Regions from separate parts of the Homo sapiens genome. Here all the other regions are linked to region 1. Evidence: fine-mapped expression QTL. A gene starts in region 1. Each other region holds a variant in brackets. All regions are shown on one strand. Distances are between the middles of the regions.

Evidence for each region.
Region 2: its variant is fine-mapped to the expression of LINC01341 in esophagus muscle (GTEx, PIP above 0.99). The same link has a PIP of 0.9 or more in fibroblasts, left ventricle, testis and tibial nerve.
Region 3: its variant is fine-mapped to the expression of LINC01341 in esophagus muscle (GTEx, PIP 0.91).
Region 4: its variant is fine-mapped to the expression of LINC01341 in esophagus muscle (GTEx, PIP 0.99).

The regions. Positions count from the first base shown.
Region 1 is chr1:246,787,004-246,792,179 of GRCh38, forward strand. It overlaps LINC01341 (long intergenic non-protein coding RNA 1341), which reads left to right and starts at 2,614. Exons shown (of 2, transcript NR_015422.1): 1 at 2,614-2,695; 2 at 3,443-4,483. RefSeq lists a silencer at 1,855-1,934.
Region 2 is chr1:246,747,637-246,752,812 of GRCh38, forward strand. The region is part of intron 5 of SCCPDH (saccharopine dehydrogenase (putative)); the gene reads left to right. Among named protein-coding and RNA genes, the nearest start is that of SCCPDH, 26 kb to the left of the region's middle. The variant C/T (reference allele first, on the strand shown) is at 2,568.
Region 3 is chr1:246,797,624-246,802,799 of GRCh38, forward strand. No RefSeq gene overlaps it. Among named protein-coding and RNA genes, the nearest start is that of LINC01341, 11 kb to the left of the region's middle. The variant C/T (reference allele first, on the strand shown) is at 2,963.
Region 4 is chr1:246,698,632-246,703,807 of GRCh38, forward strand. No RefSeq gene overlaps it. Among named protein-coding and RNA genes, the nearest start is that of SCCPDH, 23 kb to the right of the region's middle. RefSeq lists an enhancer at 420-849. The variant C/G (reference allele first, on the strand shown) is at 2,885.

The sequences.
Region 1 (5,176 bases):
GCTTCTGAACCAGCGGCATCAGTTTGATGTAGTCCTGGAACGCAGCCAGGACACTGGGGCCCGCCTTGCCGTCTCCACCGTCCGCAGCACCTGGCAACAATCACAGTGGAGGCGAAAGTCAGTCACTTGTTCCGCCATGAAGAATTTTTTTTTTTTTTTTTTTTTGAAATAGAGTTTCACTCTCGTTGCCCAGGCTGGAGTGCAGTGGCGCCATCTCGGCTCGCTGCAACCTCTGCCTCCCAAGTTGAAGCAATTCTCCTGCCTCAGCCTCCTGAGTAGCTGGGATTACAGGTGCGCACTACCACACCCGGCTAATTTTTGTATTTTTAGTAGAGATGGGGTTTCACTATGTTGGCCAGGCTGGTCTCGAACTCCTGACCTCAGGTGATCTGCCCACCTCGGCCTCCAAAAGTGCTGGAATTACAGGCGTACAGGCATGAGCCACCATGCCAAGCCCTTTTTCTTTTTTTTTTAGACAGCTGTCTTGCTCTGTCGTCCAGGCTAGCGTTCAGTGGCATGATCTCTGCTCATTGCAGCCTCCACCTCCCAGACTCAAGCAATCCTCCCATCTCAGCCTGCTGAGTACCTGGGACTACGGGTGCAAGCCACCATGCCTGGCTAATTTTTAAAATATTTTGTAGAGATGAGGTCTCACTTTGTTTCCCAGGCTGGTCTTGAACTCCCAGGTTCAAGCGATCCTCCTGCCTTGGCCTCTCAAAGTGCTAGGATTACAGGCATGAGACACCACGCCCAGCCGCCATGAATAAATGTGTATGCTTATTTGTTCATTCATTTGTTCAGCTGTTCATCAAATATCTACATTTTAAAATTACAAGCATGTAATTTAAAAACAAACAAGGGAAAATGACACTGCCTGGCTTCTCCTTACGTGGTTGCTTATCTCGACCCATGAATCCTGGCCGCAGGCAGGAGGTCCTCTGCCCCCAGTTCCCATTCTTGGTCTCAGGGTCCTTGACCCAAGGTGGCTCCAGACTGGAGGAGGGTGGGGCGAGGTGAAACATGGCTGGCTAGACGGAAGGCCTGGAGGTATCCTCAAGCTGCTGCTGGCACAGCAAGTGACCTGTGCTTCTCTTATACTTGGGGTGGCTTGAAGGAGGGGCTCGTGGAGATTATGGGAGGATCAATCTCCCTCCCAAACCCAGGCTGGTACTGCCTCTAATCAGGAAATCTCAACTCTTAGAGACCCCTGGCCTGTGGGTGCACACAGTGCCCTTGGCCCTGAGGTCTGACCCCAAACTGCTCACACAGCTGCTGCCTTGTTGGGGACCCAAGTCTTCCCTAGGGTCCGAGCCAGGGTCTGGGGCTGGTTCAGCTTCATGGCGCCACCAGGGCCACAGGGGCAGTGGCACGGTCAACCTCTGAGGACAGGTCAATGAACAGATGGCTTTTCCGGGCCTGGTATGACAGAGTCTTACTGGTTCGTTGTTTTGTTTTGTTTTGTTTTGTTTTGAAATGGAGTCTCGCTCTGTCACCCAGGCTGGAGTGCTGTGGCACGATCTCAGCTCACTGCAACCTCCTCCTCCCAGGTTCAGGCAATTCTCCTGCCTCAGCCTCCTGAGTAGCTGGGACTACAGGTGTGTGCCATCACATCCGGCTACTTTTTTGTATTTTTAGTAGAGACGGGGTTTCACTGTGTTAGCCAGGATGGTCTCGATCTCCTGACCTCGTGATCTGCCCGCCTCGGCCTCTCAAAGGGCTGGGATTACAGGCGTGAGCCACCGCGCCCGGCCTTGTTCATTTTTAAAAGTCGAAAACTTCAGCAGAAGAAGAGCAAGGAGGTGAATTTCTAATCGATTTATTTTGCTGAAATTCTGAGAGAAACACTGTGGTGTGGGGACAGGGAGGAGCTCTTGCACACACACAGGTGGATCTGCCCACTTTCCACCAGCGGTTTCATTACTGCGAGTTCAGGCAGAGTCCCGGTGCCGAGCAAAGCGTGGGGCCCCTCCGGGAAGCCCGCAGGTCACTCAGATCGCAGCGGGCTCCGGCCTGGCCAGGATTCTGGGGGAGCCGCCCGGAGCGCGGTGAATCGGGGCGGGGAGAGGGGCGGGGAAGGCGCGCGAAAGCCCCAGCAGAGACCGGCAGCGGCGGGCGGCCCGCGTGGGCTACTGCTGGGGGCTGCGTTCGGGCGAGGAGGGGAGATTCTGTCTCAGAGGCCTCGGGCTGCACGTTCTTCCGGGCCGCGCATTTGCAGCCCACAGCAGGCCCCAGCCGGCCCCTCTGGAGTTGGGCCACTGCTTCTGCAGGCCCAGCAGGCCCCTGGGGGCGGCCGGAGGCCACTAACTGGCTTCTCCAGCTCAGCATTCTTCTCTCATTTGCTGGGTACCCCACTCTCTTCTCTACCCCTTTGAACCATCTTTACCCTCATTCCTCAGGGAACGTTTAACGAGTTGAATGTTTACCATGTAGTCACTCTATATGGAAATCATAATTCAATTTTGTAAACATCAGACTTTGACAAAACAAATGATGATGTTCTTAAGGAAAGCAGAGAGACACAGTGTGAAATCGCTGCTCTCAGATCAGCACACGGGAGAGGCCAGCAGTCAGGAGGGGGCTCACCGAGTTTGTCTGCACTCGCTCCCTCCGCAGCCGCCCTCTCCAGCTGGAAGAAGTCGTAATCGAACCTGCTCAGGTCCTCACTGCCCCACTCCGAAGGAAACCCCACGTACAGGTAGGTGCTGTTGGATCCCAAAATCAGGCGGTCCTGGGGAGGAGACGGTGGGCTCAGGAGGGGTTCGAGGCCAAGGAGGGTGAGGTGAACCTCCCCAGTGAGAAGGATCTGAGGAATGTCCTCCCCTCAGGAATCCCCCAGACAGGGAGAGACGCAGACAGGAGGGAGGTGGCCTCTGGCTCCTGCGTTCACCTTCATTGCACACATTGAGGGCGTGACTCCCTTGGCCCTGGGGTTCTGTGGGGACCACCCAGAGCCAGGCCCTCCCTCCACGCTTTCCAGGCTGGTCTGGGTGAGTGCAGCAATGGCTGCAGGGGACACCAGGACCTAACTCAGACTACAGGCTACAGACGGCCTTTTCCGAGGCGTGATGCCCAAGCTAAGCCCTCCTGGGCGGTAAGTCTTGGTGAGGCAGAGACGGCTGCTGAACAACCAAAAGAAGGGCAGTGTGGCCAGGGACAGGAGGCCGAGGGAGGTCACTGAGGGGGCTTTCCAAATGGGGAGCGGCCAATCCCCATCTGCCTGTCCTGTCTGAAAGGCTGTGGCCACCAGGGAGGGGAGAGGGCTGCTGGGAAGCTGGCAGGGGCCCCAGGGTTGGCAGATTGGGGAGGAAGAGGCAGCGATGTTTGCAAGATGCTGTTCAACCCCTCTCAGTGACAGGCTCTTAGAAAAATCTAAAATGGCACAAAATGTTAGAGCTGGAAGGGACCTTGGAGAACACCTAGTTCAGCCCTCCTTGTTTTCCAGGTGAGGTCAGAGGAGTGAAGTGACTTGCCCAAGACCACACAGTGAGTCAGGAGCAGGCCTGTCCCTCCAGCAGTGGTGCCATGTTGTCCCCAAGCCATGGTGGCAGAGGAGCTGGTGTGAACGCCCCATCCTGCCACGTCTGTGATGTGGGCACCTCACATGACTGTCCCCTCCCAGCTCTTGGGGGGGACCTAGGACATTCTGTGAGCCTGCAGGAAAGTTTACCAAATGCTGCAGCTTTGTCCTGGTGGTGATGGGCACCCCGTTAACGGCAACCTTGCATTTGCTATGTGGAGTGACCGTCACTTTACCGTCGGCATTTGTGAAGGAAGCGTGTTTATCTGAAATTCTAAGAAGATGAGAGTCAAAGACACCCAGCAAACGGCGGTTTCCGTGAGCAGGTAGGCTGACCTTTCTCATGTGCACAGGAGGGAAGGTCTACAGCTGCGGAGGATGGCAGGTGGCATCTCGGGGCCTCCTGTGTGCTGTGGCCCATGATGCATGGGGACAGCAGCGGGCGCAGAAGGACCCTGCCCTTGGGGAGCACGGGGAGCTGGGAGACAGCAGGCAAGGGCTTCATTAACAGAACGAACACCAGCTGAGGGCCTAGCACTGCGGGGAGCCGGCCAAGGCCACACTGGAGTCCTCCCGCTCCCAGGCCAGCGGGATGGGGTGGTGGGAAGATGGCAGCAAGCAAGCTTCAGAAGAGACGCTCAGGAGGCGACTCTTAACGAGCCTCACCTACTCCGGGTACGTTTTGATCTGTTTCTGCGCCCTCGCCGTATAAATTCAGACCTTATAGGATTTGGGGCTGGACGTCGGGGTGTCAGGTTGGCATCCCCTCTCCCCGCCCTGCTCCCCTGCACCGATGTCATCTGTGTGTCCTGAATGACTGGCTCCCTGCCTTAGCATGTTCCATGTTCCTGCACTCCTTGGCCATCATGGAATGTTCTGGATGTGGAGACCCGTGTGCATCCAAACCCTTTTTTGCATGGGGCCCAGGGATCCTGTGGGAAAGGTTGCGGCCTCATCACTGGAGTTCAGACATTTACGCACCTGTGCGTTGGACTAAGGACGTGTTCTGGAAAGGGACTTGAGGGGGATCCCCAGGAAGATGTCCCAAGAAGGAGGCTGGCAGTGCAGGACGAGGCGGGGCCAGCCGGCCCCTGGGTCAGCACCCCTCCAGCCACGACGGCCCGTGGGCTTTCGTACGGGGGCAGGGGGTGATCTGTCTGAAGGATGTAGGTGATGGTGCTTCCCAGCTGGAGAGCTGGAAGCAGGAGGAGGACACTCCAGCAGCAGCCTCCCAGGCAGGGCAGCCACAGAGCTGGGGACAGCTCTTGACTGGGTGAGGCCCGGCATGGGGTTTCCCAGGGCTCCTGCGGGGCCTCCTGAGGGAGCCCTTGGGGTCACTCCACAGTCTGGGCTTTCTGTAGTCCGGTGGGTCAGGGCTCCAAGCACCAGGAGAGATCCAGGGATGCGCTTATGTTTGGGCCACCCCCGGTGGGCTTGTTCGTTCAGCCCCCTTCGTTTCCTGGCCTGCTCTACTTATATCTGTTTGTGAAGAATTATTACACAGAATCTAGAAACCAGCTTTCCCTTTTCTCCCAGGGTTGGAGCCCAGGAAGCAAACCAGCACTGCACCCTAGATTTCAGCCAGAGGACGAAAGCCCTGCCCTCAGCTTTCTCAGACCAGCCCTGGAGTAGGTGGCCCGGGGAGACCTGGGCAGTGTC
Region 2 (5,176 bases), 39 kb before region 1:
AGGTGTTCTTATCCCTGACACAGGTAGCCCCTACTGCTGTGTCATTCCCCTTTTGGCTAGGGTTGGACTGCAGTCTAAGCTAATTCCGATTGGCTATTTTAAAGAGAGCAGGGGTACGAGGAAGGACAGTTACAGAACAAGTGGCTCAGGATGACTAAGAACAGAGCAGGTGACCAAGGGTGACTAAGATCAGAGCAGGTGATAGAGGCTAGGAGGGGGTTGTTTACTGAAACTAGGGTCAAGGAGACGTAAAGAACGAGGATGTTAAACTTTAAAGAACAAAGAACAGGGGAGCGGAACATAACTGACACATTGGTTCTTTGGAGAGGATCTCAGGACTCATTGTACGTAACAATTTACAGGCTGAAACCTTCGAAGAGGAATTTATTCTATCCTACAATTTCCCCCCTTTCAATTTTCTTGTTATTTCCTCTTCAAACTTTTTTTAACATGTCTTGGCTTTGCTGCTCGACTTTATCCTCTAAAAGAAAAAGCTGATCTGAATAGGGTGGAGGAGAGCTAAGGGAGGTTTTAGTTAGTGCTGCATCTGTAAGTCTTTGACTAGCCCACGGATGCACGGTATGACACAACACCCACCAAGAATGAGTACACCTGTTACAGCTGCAAGAGAAGTAAGAATTGAGGCTGAGTTCTTTCCATTTACCAAACCACCTTTCTAGCCACCCGGAGAAAGGGTTATCGGCTCCAGAATTTTAGCTAGTTCATGGGACAAAGCGGTAAGTCTTTGTAAGGCGCTCGTTGTGCTCCCAGTGGGGGTAGTGTTGTTTGGGATTAAGGTACAACACTGAGTTTCAATCATAACACAAACACCGCCTTTTTTGGCTAATATATCTAGGACCATTCTGTTTTCCCAAGCCATCTGGCTAGTGGGCCCCAATTGTTCTGCTATCCCTTTGACAGTATCCCTGGTGTAATTACTAAACCACTGCTGATTATAATAGATGTAATGTATCCAGTCTTTGTTTTTATTAATTGTCACCTGTAAAAATATTGACTTAAATCCTGCAGCTATTTGATCTCGAGATTTAAATTCATCTGGTTCTCCTCATGGAACTCCAGTAGCGTTTATATAAACATGGGGGTCAAAGGACCCATGTGGGGCACTTCTTTTATGATTTTCTTTTTTATCATGTTGACAGAATGCTAGGGTGGAAGGGATGGCCAACTGGACTAGAGCACAAGTGCTGCTCTAATTACTTGCAGAATACCCAGCAATAGTCCCCCGCAATACCACCACGCACCTGCTCGAGGATGAACAAGGGCAGACTGGTGGGTAAGCTCTGGAAAAGGCTTGGTTTCACTGCACCCTGTTAAGTCTCCAAGGAATGCTAACTTTTCCGTCTGCCGTGAAAGGCACGAGGTGAAGTTAATATCAGGCTGGAGGCCACATGGCCCTCGGGGGCTGACCCACAAGGCTCTTGACCTCAGGGAACAGCAGTGAAAGAGTCTTGCATGACTCATCGCCTCGGCTGTAGGGTTCTGGAAGAGAGCTACCACACAGCTCATGCCCAGTCATGAGAGAACCACCCAGGTGGAAAGGGGACAGTTTGGGTATCTGGCCTGCCTGTTGCACAAGCATAACCGTCGCTTTTGTTTAGCGTGCAAACAGAATATTTTATCCATTCCAGCCAAGCATTTGCATCCAGATACCCTGTTTCAATTGCTGTAGTTTGTTTTAAATCTTTAACCTCTACAGTAGCTACATAGGTTTTATCATTGGGTATATAATGAGAGAAAGTTTGGTTAGTGGAGAACTTAGACGAGGGAGAAGGGGGTGCAGGATGTGAGGAGGCAATGAAGTACATTTCAAAGGATCCTATGGGGTCCTTCCCTGAGACTTCTCCTACACCACAGAAATGGCCTAATGAAGGGGAAGAACTCTGGGGAGCAGCAGTCGTCATCTGTGCTGGATTACATTGGTTCAGCTGACCATGGGGAGGGGAAACTCCTTTAGTAAAATGAATGTATGGTTTTAAGAAGCTGCAAGTACTAGTTGGGGCCGTCCGTCCTTGCTCTTTGGTGTTTTATAGAGCATCGGACAAATTTCGGCAGAGAAGCTCTGCTCTAGGAGGACAAGATTCCCAGTTCATACTGGACTCTTTGTCAAAGTCCTCCCAAACTAACTTATCTCAGTTAACAGATTTCCAGTCTGAGGAGAGCTAGGAAGGATAAAGATACTTTTCTAAAGTGTAGATTTGCCTCTGGTTTGACAAATCTTCACAGGGCATCAGAAGGCAAGCGTCAAAAGTAATGGTTTGGGGTGAACTTGACCTAGTTACACTAGTAAAGAGAGGACTAGCAATAGAAGGGGAAAAGAAAGAGATGCAGTATAGGAGGTTCAAACCCATTTTCGCTTTAGCTTGGTTGGAGTTGGCCCTGGAATAGCTGTCCATGATTCTGGAGGGGGTGGTGCTCTTTGGACCCAGGTGTAATGAGTCCATCCTCTTTCTGCTGTTCGAACCGCGGTCTTGGTGCTTAGAAGCACTAGGTAGGGTCCTTCGAAAGCGGGTTCGAGTTTTCCTTCCCTTTAGCTTTTGACAAGGACA[C/T]GGTCCTCATGCTAATGTTGGTGTACTGGAAACTCTAGCGGGGGGGTACCTGTGCTGAAAGACCTATAGTTCTGAGGGACGAGAAAGTGGAAGATAAACCAAACATACAATTTCTGAGGAACTGATCTTTTGTTTTGACTGTGGGAATGTCAGCAGTGGAGTGCAAACAGGGCAACCTATACAACACTTCGTAAGGGGATAAGCGAACATCTTTCCGAGGGGCAGTTCAGATTCTAGGCAGGGCAATGGGATGGCAGCTAGTCCATGGCACCCGAGTCTCTAGACTAATTTGGTTAGGTGGCTTTTTTAGAGTTTGGTTCATTCTTTCCACTCTTCCTGATGAAGGTGGGTGCCAGGGAGTATGATATTCCCATGTTATATCCAGTACCTGGGCTAATTTCTTAATGACATGTACAGTGAAATGAGTCCTATTATCTGAGTCAATGCTTTCTATTAATCTAAACCTGGGTATAATATTTTCAACTAATGCCTTGACTACATTACTAGCAGTTGTACTTGAAAAGGGAATAGTTTGTACCCAACGAGTAAGGTGATCTATTATTACTAATAAATACTTTAGACGACCAATTGGAGGCATCTCTGTGTAATGAATCTGGATACTTTGGAATGGCCTTAAGCCTGGACTCCTTCCCCCAAGGGGTAATCTTTTTATAGTTTGTTTATTGGTTTTCTTACATACTGAGCAACTGTCTGTAACCCGTTTGGCCGGGGTATAAATTCCTGTGCACCCATAAACTCTGAGGACTGCGTCACACATGGCGTGGGGCCCCCAGTGGGTCCCTTGACGCAGCTGGAACAACATTTCGCTCATAAGGGGTTTGGATAACATTTCTCTCTGGTCTGGCAGTATCCATTTTCCTTCAGAATTCTCTTTAGCAACTGTTTTTATTAATTTTTTAGACCAAAGAAACCCAAATGCCATTTTATATTTGACAATTAGCAGATCAGCTAAATGTCACCTTTCTATTAGTGTGCTATTAATGTTAAACTCAATTTTAATAAAACCTTTTAGACATATTTATCCAATTTTAATGTCTGACCATAAGTTTTTTATAGACTCTTTTTAACCCTTTATAATTTTTGTTAAAGAACAGGTTAGTACTTTAAGAAAAACCTGTTGTGCTTTTATTTTAATGTCCAGTTTACAGAAACTTTAACCAATATGTTTACACACAGAATTTCCTTTACAATTAACTTTTCAAACCTTGCTTAAACCTTCAAAACAATTTTTAACCTTTTAATGTAGGTAAAAATCCACATTCTTATGCCTCCTTATAATCCTTTTACCAAAAGTATATTTTACTTTCCTTACACACCTTGCACATAAACTGTTTCTTCAATAGTTTTACATTCAGGAGGCCTAATTACTTTTCAATTATATGACATTTCTTGCATAAATTCCCTTTTATAACATTTTTCACGACTTTCACAGACGACCTTTGACATGCCTTAACTTTCTGACTTGTCGTAAATATCCCTTTCTTTAAACAACCAGTTAATTTACTTTAGGACAAGAATTTACCATATAAGATTCTTTTTACATAAATTCTCCTTTTTTTTTTTTTTTGAGATGGAGTCTCGCTCTGTCGCCCAGGCTGGAGTGCAGTGGCGCAGTCTCAGCTCACTGCAAGCTCGCCTCCCGGGTTCATGCCATTCTCCTGCCTCAGCCTCCTGAGTAGCTGGGGCTACAGGCTCCCGCCACCACGCCCGGCTAATTTTTTTTTTTTTGTATTTTTTTAGTAGAGACGGGCTTTCACCGTGTTAGCCAGGATGGTCTCATCTCCTGACCTCATGCTTCACCCGCCTCGGCCTCCCAAAGTGCTGGGATTACAGGCCTGAGCCACCGCGCCCGGCTAATTCTCCTTTTTTTTTAATGTCAAAGATGATAACCATTCTTTTCCAAAGCACACTGCCTTCATGTCTGTGGACTAGACTGCCTGAGGCCACAAGATTAGAAGTTAGGATCATACATGTTAGACTTAACTTTTAGCAAACTTTACTTTTGTTGAAAACCTTGTAAGTTTGGGATTTTAATTATGTGCTAGGTGTAGAGCCTAGGACCTAGACAGAAGTGCAGATGAGGTCTGGCTTCTCCTAGCATTTAACTCCATGTGTCCTAGGTTTTCCCTAGCTGCAAAGCAGGCCAGTTGTACAGCTAAGAAACGGTAGTCTGTTTGGCTATCTGATTAATAGCTCTAAGTTCTTGCACTAACCAGTATGACCCATCTGGCTTCTTTACAGGCAGAATTTGAGTGTTATAGGGAGACATACAGGGTTTAAGCAGCCCGTCACAGAGAAGACCTTCAATTATCAATTGTAGGTTTTAAATTTACCCTCACTTTTAAAGGAATAGGGTATTGCTTTCTCTTTTCTACTTCCCCAGGGGTTTTTAATTTTTTTAATTTAACACGAATCGGAGGAATCTGTAACTTTCCTCGATTCCTGTCTTTTGACCATACCTTGGGATGAATGTGTTCTTTGTCTGCGGTGGGGAGCAAGTTTAGGGAGGGGAGGAATTTTCCCTAATCAATATAGAGGCGTAAGCCAAATTTTAGTACTAAATCTCTCTCTGATAAGTTTGTTCCTGC
Region 3 (5,176 bases), 11 kb after region 1:
ATTCCGCACCAGGTCTGGTTCCATTCAACCATTAAGACCAAAGTGACTTGAATCGCCTGCACAGTTCAAATAAACACGTGCAGCTCAGCCAGCCCGGACCTCAGCCCCTGACGTGTCCTGGGACCTGAACACAGTCAGCCAATTGGGCTGACTTGGTTAACCTAAGAACCTGCCCAATCCCTGTGGCTGCTGAAATTAACTCCTGGCCTGGAGGCTGTCCGGAGGCTCAGCTCTGCGCCTGCGCCAGGCTGGGAGGAGCCTCAGAGGTGTTCTAGGTCACTCCTTCCGATGTCGTCAGAGAAAACAGATGCCCCCAAATAGTGCATGGGATATACAGTAAAACATGCCTTGTTCTCTGAAATTTCAATGTAACCAAGCACCTTGTATTTTTATTTGCTAAATCTGGTAACTGTACCCCTTTCGTTTTACACAGGGGAGATGGAATCAGAGTTTACAAGTCCCACGGGCCGCGGGCACCATTTTCTCTTTCCTCTGTATCACATGGTCTCTTGTGTAAAAACTGGGAGCAACAGATTTGCATCTGATAAGCAGGGAGAAAACAAACGTTCTGGATACTGCTTAAGGCAAAATTCGATCTAAAGCTCTGAGCTTGGGCTGGGCATGGTGGCTCACACCTGTAATCCTGGTACTTTGGGAGGCCGAGGAGGGAGGATCACTTGAGTCTGGGAGGTTGAGGATGCCATGAGCCATGATTGTGCCACTGTACCCCAAGCTGGGTGACAGGGTGACACCCTATCTCAGAAAATAAACATAAAACCTGAGCTTGTGTCAGATGCTGGAAGAAAATGCCTCATGGTGTGCCACAATACCGAGGCTGTGCAGTGAGGAATGAGAAGGAAGACATTTGTCACCAACATGCAAGTGTTGCTGTGCTGAGAAGAGGGCCAGAGAAAAGACCAGAACGGGAGGCAGCTCCTGGGTGGCACAGTCATAACCACAGTTCCCAAGCCTCACTCACACACCAGGCAGAACTCTGCTAGGCACAGTTCACACATGACCTCCTGTGGTCCTCTCCCCAGCGCTGTGAATGAGGAATGCTGGCTCAGTGTAACAGGTGATAGGGGAGAGGTTCTATTTCTTGCCCGTGGTCACAGCTGCTAGGGCCAGACTCTGTCTGACCTCTAAGCCCATAGACCTGGTGAATGACATATCAGGGCTGGCAAGTAAGTTTCACCTCACATGCCAACTCCAGCTGCCCAGAACCAGGCCTGACAGTCCCAGTCTCCTGCCCGGACTCGGTGGGGAGCTGGGCTGGTGGATTCCCAAGGCCGGCCTTCGCCTAAGGAGGGGTAGGCAGCATGTGGGGACGGTCCTACCATGGCCACAGACTCTCCTCTCCCCACACCTCCCTTTCTTAGAAGGTTCAGGAGAGCAGACTTGGTACGAGCTGCAGAGGCCGAGGAGCAGGAACTCGGCTTGGTGACAGCCTCCCGTAGTGCTGACCAAGTGGACCTGTCTCCCAGCCAGGTGGGTGGGAAGGAACCTGGCAGTGACAGCCCCTCCCTCCCTGGTGACTCCTGCGGCCATCAGGCCACCTCCACAGACTGCAGTGTGCAGAGTGGACCCTGGGAAGTGCGGTAACTGACAGTGTGGAGAGCTGGTCTGTGCAGGGGCTGCAGGGCTGCCCAGCGAGTGGCTCTGACCGAGGCGCTGTCGCTTACAGAGCTCATCTTCATTTGTCATTAGCACAAAAATCCCCTTGTCTGGCACCACGCCCTGTGTGACAAAAGGAGAAAGCTGTGAATAGCCGTGCTATTCGGCAGGAAAATACAGGGACAGATCAAACCAATCACATCAGGACCAGCATCCGTGCCGCCCCCATCCCTGAGCCCCCAGTTCTGCTCCCATCCAGGACCCAGTGACACAGCCCTGCCCTGAGGCTCCGGGTCTCCATTCTTTCCCTCGTGTTTTAGTTCCTTTCATTCCTCTCTCTCAGGTCGTTTTGTTTTCCTCCTGGACCCCCTTCCCAATGGCAACCCCTGCAGTCTAAGAGCACTGACAGACTTTGCTAGATTTAGAACGTAGAACCACCATGGATGATAAATATTCACAGACGTACCTTTCCGCATATCTCAATGTTGATAGAGTTTCCTCATAGCAGATGTCAGCTGGACTTACGGCTGCGATCTGTGAAAACAGCCCTTTCAGACTTTGTTACTTATAGAGGAGTTTATTGTTATTAAAGCAGCTCGTATTCACAGGGCAGTTTGGCATCTTGTAATTTATGATATTGTTCCAAATTTACAGTTTAGAAATGGTGGCTTAGAGGAATGCCTGAGGCCACTTGCTGAGCTGGGGCTCGAACCCACCCCTGCCTAACTCATACCTGTGCTGCCAGCTGTGAGACTGACCGCCCTTGGGACTGAGTCCTCCGTGGACTCCCTCAGGGGCCTGAGTGACGGTTGAATGTTAGTCTCACAGAGACCTTGCTCGTTTTGTGACAGCCACTTGTATGGTTTCAAGCCTGGCTGTTGACTTTATTTATACTTACATTTTTTTGAGACAGGGTCTCACTCTGTCACCCTGGCTGGAGTGTGGTGGAGCAATCATGGCTCGCAGCCTTGACTTCCTGGGCTCAGGTGGTCCTCCTGCCTCAGCCTCCAGAGTAGCTGGGACTACAGGCATGCACCACCACACTCGGCTAATTTTTGTGTTTTTTGTAGAGACAGGGTCTCTCTGTGTTGCCCAGGCTGGCGTTGAACTCCTGGGCTCAAGGGATATGCCCACCTCAGTCTCCCAAATTGCTGGGATTACAGGTATGAGCCATTGTGCCTGGCCTTGACTTTGGATTGATTGTTCCAGAATTCAGAAAAGTTTTCAACTCAGAAGCAAACTTAGTGATGATTGGGTGGGCAGGTCACTGAGGATGGCTGGGGAGGGTGGCTGAGGGTGGCTGTGGCAGCTGCCATGTGGCAGCACATCCTCTGTGGGCTGGGAGGCC[C/T]GGGACCCAGAGCTCTGGGAGCCCAGGAAGTAATTATTTACATTTGTCTAACTTCACAGCTTTTAAAGCTTGTTCGGTTACGCCATCTCATTTAATCATCATGGCAATATTTTCAGGTGGATTTTTATCACCACTAAAAATTAAGGCTGTAAGACATTTGTGTTAAAACTGGGATTGGCGCCATAGAGACTGGAGAGCTTGGCTGTCGGCCTTGCAGGTTCTCTGTTCTCTTTGCTTCTTGAGATAATGGATGCCACCCTCTGCCTCTCCCCAGCCTGCTCCTTTGTTAAAGCTTGCGGGTTCCTGAGATGATGGATGCCACCCTCGGCCACTCCTGAGCACACTCCTTTGTTAAAGCTTGTGGGTTCCTGAGATGATGGATACCCACCCTCGGCCTCTCCCAAGCACGCTCCTTTGTGAAAGCACTGCACTGCCCTCAGGCAGCCCCTGTCAAGTCTTGCAGGTCTGGGCGTCTCGGTGGCTTGGCACACATCTGCTGAGACCCGCTAGGTTGAATGTTGTAGGTTAACGTTCAAAGAGCATCTTACAGGCCTTCTTGTGTCCCAGGTTTTTGGGGAGATGTCCTGTTGAGGCCCACAGGTAACTGACAACCAGAAAAACTTTAAAATGAAGTATTGAAACTGGTCAGGATTGAGTGATAAAGAGTAAGGTTGTGTTTTACTGTGGATTTTGGAGAGAAATGCATGTAACTGGTCCCGACAGGGAGCATTTCTCTCCTAAGCAGGACAGCAGAGTGGAGGCCAGCGCCAGGCTGGGGGCAGAGTTCACCCCATTTTGTCCCTCCCTGCAGCTGAAGCAGAAGAGCAGAGTCCTGATTTTAACACATTCCACACTGTACCCACTTGGCAAACATTCAATAATGGGATTCCAGAGCCTTTGCTGAGATAACGCGGTGCAGCTGCTCTCCAGGGTGAACACACAGTCACACTGATTTCCAGCCTTGCCGGGGATGACTGCTAACTTAGAATAACATGACATTGCTAGTTGTTTTTTTTTTTTTAATGGTACTAGTTTTTTTCCTGATAATAAAAGTAACATATATTCCTTGTAGAGAACTTAAACTACAGAAAAGAATAAATTTAAAAATTAGTAATACAGAAACATTGTTTGAACATTGTACTAGAGTACCAGAAGTTACAAGATAATGGTAGGTCATCATTTGTTAGTCCTGAGGGGGAAACCAAACAAGACCAGGTGCAGTGGCTCATGCCTGTAATCCCAGAACTTTGAGAGGCCGAGGCAGGTGGATCATCTGAGATCAGGAGTTCAAGCCTGGCCAACACAGTGAAAACCCATCTCTACTAAAAAGAAAAAAAAATAGCCAGGTGCATGCGTCTGTAGCCCCAGCTACTCGGGAGGCTGTGGCAGGAAAATCGCTTGAACCTGGGAGGCGGAGCTTGCAGTGAGCCGAGACTGCGCCACTGCACTCCAGCCTGGGCGACACAGCGAGACTCCGTCTAAAAAAAAAAAAAAAAAAAAAAAATTGCTAGGCTAGGTCAATGCAAAGTCCTGTGTTATATGACAGGTGTATTGGGAATAATTTAATCACAACAGCAACAACAACTATAATAGCAGAATCCGTGTGAAATGTTGTAAGAAAAGCTATTTTACCAAAGCGGTTCTGCTGTTCCCACCCAGAGCTGACTGGAGCAGTTTGGTCAGAACAGAATCTCTGTATGGAATGTGCAAGACCTTCTTCCCCATAGCTGCGTCAGCCAGAACACTGAAAGAAAAAGAAGATTCAAGACAGAAAAAGAATGCCTCAAGAAGAAATCCACCTCCCGTGGGATGAGTTGGAAATGGCTCCCACATCCCCTCTTTGGCCCCATAAGCCTGACGATCATATCCAACAGTAGAGATGCCTTCTGTCATCGATGCTGGAGTAAGCTAGCTAACCACGGGCCTGACTCCTCCGAAATCAACCGTAGAGAAGCCATAACCTAGAGGAGGAAGCCCAGGTCTGAGGAACAAACACACCCACACCTGCGAGGAAAACTCGAAGAGCCTGCAGGCTACCATAGTTTGTGTGTAGAGAATGAGCTGCAATTCAAGGAAGGAGGTGCCAGGCCTGACAGTGTGCAGATAGGTTTGGGGGGTAGTTTTAGGGTCTTTTCTTGCCTCTCTCTCTCATGCTGCCTTAAGATCCCATAAAGTTAGGACCACAGCCTCAGGATAGGGGTGAGTGAGAAGCCC
Region 4 (5,176 bases), 88 kb before region 1:
GAAGGCAAACCAACCTCTTTCATATCAACATCCATTGCCACCTGTTAGTAAGTGTCAAATGGTGTTCTGCATGCTAGAAGATCTCCCTCCCACGGGGTGCCTGTGAGCCTCCTGCTATAGGAGACAGAATTCTGTATGGCCCATCCAGGGAGGAGCAACCGAAGGAAAAACAGCAACTGTGGTTCTCTGTGCCTATATTGGATTATGTCCCATAGATGCCCCTTACATCTTCTAATGAGGGAGTGGCTAGTGGGGCTCCTATTTGCTAGATGTTTCTGCTGCTGGGCTAAAAACCGCTTAGGTGGCCGGGCGGGGTGGCTCACGCCTCTAATCCCTGCACTTTGGGAGCCGAAGTGGGAGGATTACTTGAGTTTAGGAGTTTGAGACCAGCCTGGGCAACATAGTGAGACCCCCATCTCTACAAAATGAATAAGTAGAGTTTAAATTAAAAAGAGAAAAAGAAACATGCTTAATCTACTTCTGAGAATGATCTCAGGAAGAGAGTGAAACAGATGGGCTCGGTCTCCTGAGGGAGACAAACAGGGCTTCAAGCAGGGCTTAGGCTGGGGACGCTGTGTGGAGCAGAGTCACTGGCTATTTATAGCCCAAACAGTAAGAAGAGTCGTTATGAAAATGCCCAGAGGTGCTTTGATCCGGGAAGTACACAAGCCAATCAAAATACGCCGCCTTCGGGCAAGAGGAGCCGGAGAGCGCCATCTAGTGACCCCACAAGTTCCCTTCCTGAAGGAAGTATTCAGTCCGGAGAAACCAAGACCCACCTCACAGCGAGGACCAGAGAGACACCTTGGTAAGAGGCCCTGGAAACGAAACACAAAGCGAGGAAGGACAGTGCACGGGCCTCAGACGCGAAAAACAGGGGTCGGAGTGCCCATCCTACAGGTTGTTTGATAATTAAATGAGATATTTCCTTTTTATATGAAATGTTTTATGTTCATAAAGATGACAACTAAATAATCTTCATTAACTTAGGAATCCAGCCCTTACTATGTGACACAGTGTGTGCCAATGTATTTATCATTTTGTTTTATGAGTTGTATCTTTTTTTTTTTTTTTTTTGAGACAGGGTCTCACTTTGTCACCGAGGCTGGAGTGCAGTGACACAATCTCGGCTCACTGCAACCTCTACTTCCCAGGCTCAAGTGATTCTCCTGCCTCAGCCTCCTGAGTAGCTGGGACTACAGGCGTGCGCCACCACGCCCAGTTGATTTTTTGTATTTGTTTTGTTTTGTTTTGTTTTGTTTTAGTAGATATGGGGTTTTGCCGTGTTGGCCAGGCTTGTCTCGAACTCCTGAGCTCAGGTGATCTGCCTGCCTCGGCCTCCAAAGTGCTGGGATTACAGGCGTGAACCACGGCGTCTGGCCAACTTGTATCATTTTTGTTATTATAGAATATTTATTTGAAATGTTCTAGTTTGCAGTAATTTGTGGGAGTTTTGTTCTTACTAGGACTTAGGAAAGATATTGCATAAACCACTGCTATTGGGTTCACAGAAAATATAGGAAAAAAAGAATAACAACTATTTTGGGGTTTTTTTGGTTGGGGGTGGTTTGAGACAGGGTCTTGTCGTCGCCCAGGCTGGGGTGCCGTGGCGCCATCACGGCACTCAAACTCCTGGGCTCACTGCAACCTCAAACTCCTGGGCTCAATCAATCTTCCCACCTTAGCCTCCTGAGTAGCTGGGACCGCAGGTGCCTGCCACCACGTCTGGCTAATTTATTTATTTTTGTAGAGATGGGGTTTCACCATGTTGCTCAGGCTGGTCTCAAACTCCTGGGCTCAAGTAATTCTCCCACCTTGGCCTCTCAAAGTGCTGGAATTACTGGCATAAGCCACTGCACCTGGCTCAATAAGAACTATTATGGAAATGACATTTACATTTGTATATGTGCCAGATGTATATGAAATAGAATGAAAAAAGGCCCAAACCCAGCATAACGCACCGTTTCCTGGAATATTAATACATGCCAGGCAGCCTAAAGGTATGTCTCGTGGCAAGCCTGGGTCTGGATGAAACAAAACCTGGATTCCTCACAGTTCTGCATAGATTCTTGGAAGGCAGAGATGAGAGTCACTATCAGGCAACCAAAATATAGTTTTCTCTTATGACTTCGAGTCACCTCACTTATGGAATTTGGAAACTTACATGTGCAGATGACAGTTGGCAACAGCAGAGTGTGTCTCACAGCTAGATGTGGGTGTGTAATTAGCTGGAGGCCATACATGATTAAATCAATATGTTTCATTAGATGTCACATGTTAATCCTCCTTACTCATTTTGAGAATATTTTAATTTTCATAATAAATTATTCTGATTATAGCCGGGTGCGGTGGCTCATGCCTGTAATCCCAGCACTTTGGGAGGCTGAGGCGGGTGGATCACGAGGTCAGGAGATCAAGACCATCCTGGCTAACATGGTGAAACCCCGTCTCTACTAAATGTACAAAAAATTAGCCGGGTGTGGTGGCCGGCGCCTGTAGTCCCAGCTACTTGGGAGGCTGAGGCAGGAGAATGGCGTGAACCCGGGAGACGGAGCTTGCAGTGAGCCGAGATTGCACCACTGCACTCCAGCCTGGGCAACAGAGCGAGATTCTGTCTCAAAAAAAAAAAAAAGAGGATATCCAAATGACCAAAAGACATAAGAAAATGTGATCTATATCATTAGTTACCAGGTAAACACACATTAAAAGTGCAATGAAATATCATTACATAACAACTCAAAAATTAAAAGGATGGGGAATACCAAGTGTTGATGATGTTAGGGAGCAACTGGAACTTTCTCTCATCAGTTACTAGTTGAAGTGTTAACCGAAGCAGCCACTTTTGAAAACTGCTTAGCAGGATCTACCAGAGCTAAACATACAC[C/G]TACCCTTTACTCTGGCAATTTCACTCCTAGGTATAAATCCAAGAGAAATGAGTACACTTGAGTAGTAAGCCTTGTGTATGAGAAAGTTCAGAGCAGCCTTATTCATAATAGTAAAGCTAGAAGTGTCCCAATTAGCTATCAGCAGCAGAATAAAAACTAAACTGCTCACACGTGTAATCCCAGCACTTTGGGAGGCCGAGGCGGGTGGATCACAAGGTCAGGAGATCAAGACCATCCTGGCCAACATAGTGAAACCCCATCTCTACTAAAGATACAAAAAAAAAATTAGTCGGGCGTGGTGGCGGGCGCCTGTAGTCCCAGCTACTTGGGAGGCTGAGGCAGGAGGATGGCGTGAACCCAGGAGGCGGAGCTTGCAGTGAGCCGAGATCGCACCACTGCACTCCAGCCTGGGCGACAGAGCAAGACTCTGTCTCAAAAAAAAAAACAAAAATCAAAAAACAAAAAGCAAACAAACAAAAAACTAAACTGGCCAGGCACAGTGGCTCATGCCTATACTCCGACCAATTTGGGAGGCCAAAGTGGGTGGATAACTTGAGGTCAGGAGTTTGAGACCAGCCTGGCCAACATGGTGAAACCCCATCTCTACCAAAAATACAAAAATAAGTTGAGTGTGGTGGTGCATACCTGTAGTCCCAGCTACTCGGGAGGCTGAGGCAGGAAAATCACTTGAACCCGGGAGGCGGAGATTGCAGTGAGCTAAGATTGCGCCATTGCACTCCAGCCGGGGAAACAGAGTGAGACTCCATCTCACAAAGAAAAAAAAAAAGGAAAAAAAGAATAAAAATTTAACTAAAAACTATATTCATATGGCATAGTGTTATACAGCAATAAAAATAAGGAATTACTGATATATGCAGCAATATGGATGAATCTTAGACATTATGCTGAATGAAAGAAACCAGATACAAAAAGAGTGCATACCAAATGATTCCTTTCTTTTCTTGAGACAGAGTCTCGCTCTGTTGCCCAGGCTGGAGTGCAGTGGCACGATCTTGGCTCACTGCGAGCTCCGCCTCCCAGGTTCAAGTGATTCTCCTGCCTCAGCCTCCCGAGTAGCTGGGATTACAGGGATGTGCCACCTCACCTGGCTAATTTTTGTATCTTTAGTAGAGATGGGGTTTCACCACGTTGGCCAGGCTGGTCTCAAACTCCCGACTTTAGGTGATCCACTCACCTCGGCCTCCCAAAGTGCTGGGATTACAGGTGTGAGCCACTGCACCTGGCTGAATGATTCCTTTTATATGAAGTTCAATAAATCAGAATAGTGGTTACCCCTGGAGAGGATGGTGCTGAATGAAAAGGAGTACAGGGAAATCCTCTGGTGCTGGGAACATCCTGTATCTTGATCTGAGTGGTGGTTGCAGGGTGCGTATATATATTAAAATTCAATGATTTCTACATTTCAGGGTAATGTATTTTAAAACTTTATTATATTTATTTTATACCTCAATAAAGAAGAAAAAAAGAATACAGATGCTAACTTGAAGGGAATACTAGTGGCCAAAGATGGGACAATTTGAATATCAAGAAAAATTTTGACTGTGATGTATTGAAACATATTAAACAAATAAAAACCCATTAGTTTATAATGATTCTAAAAATATTACTTGATCTGTTATCATCTTGAAAATTGGTAAAAAGAAAAAATCAGGTATTTTTTCCTGTTTTTCCTTAGCAGTAATATTTCAGAGTAAACAAATAGTTGATGAAGAAATTATTTTCCCAACTTCCAGCTGATAAATACAGAAGGAACAATAGAATTAGAAAACTGCTGGCTGGGTGCGGTGGCTCACACCTGTAATCCCAGCACTTTGGGAGGCTGAGGTGGGTGGATCACCTGAGGTCAGGTATTCGAGACCAGCCTGGCCAACATGGTGAAACCCCATCTCTACTGAAAATACAAAAATTAGCTGGGCATGGTGGCACGCGCCTGTAATCCCAGCTACTCAGGAGGCTGAGGCAGAAGAATCGTTTGAACCCGGGAGGCAGAGGTTGTAGCGTAGCAAGCCGAGATCACGCCACTGCACTCCAGCCTGGGCAACAGAGCGAGACTCCTTCTCTACATAAATAAATAAAAAAGCCTGGCACAGCATGTCTGGGCTGAAATCAAGTTGCGGACCAGGCTGAGTTCCCATCTGGAGGCTCCGGGCAAAATCTGCTTTAAAACTCATTCTTGTCGTTGGCAGAATTCAGTTCCTTGTGGTTGCAAGACCCAGGTTTCCTGGTTTCCTCGCTGGCTGTCAGCCAGGAGCTGCTTCAGCTCCGAGAGG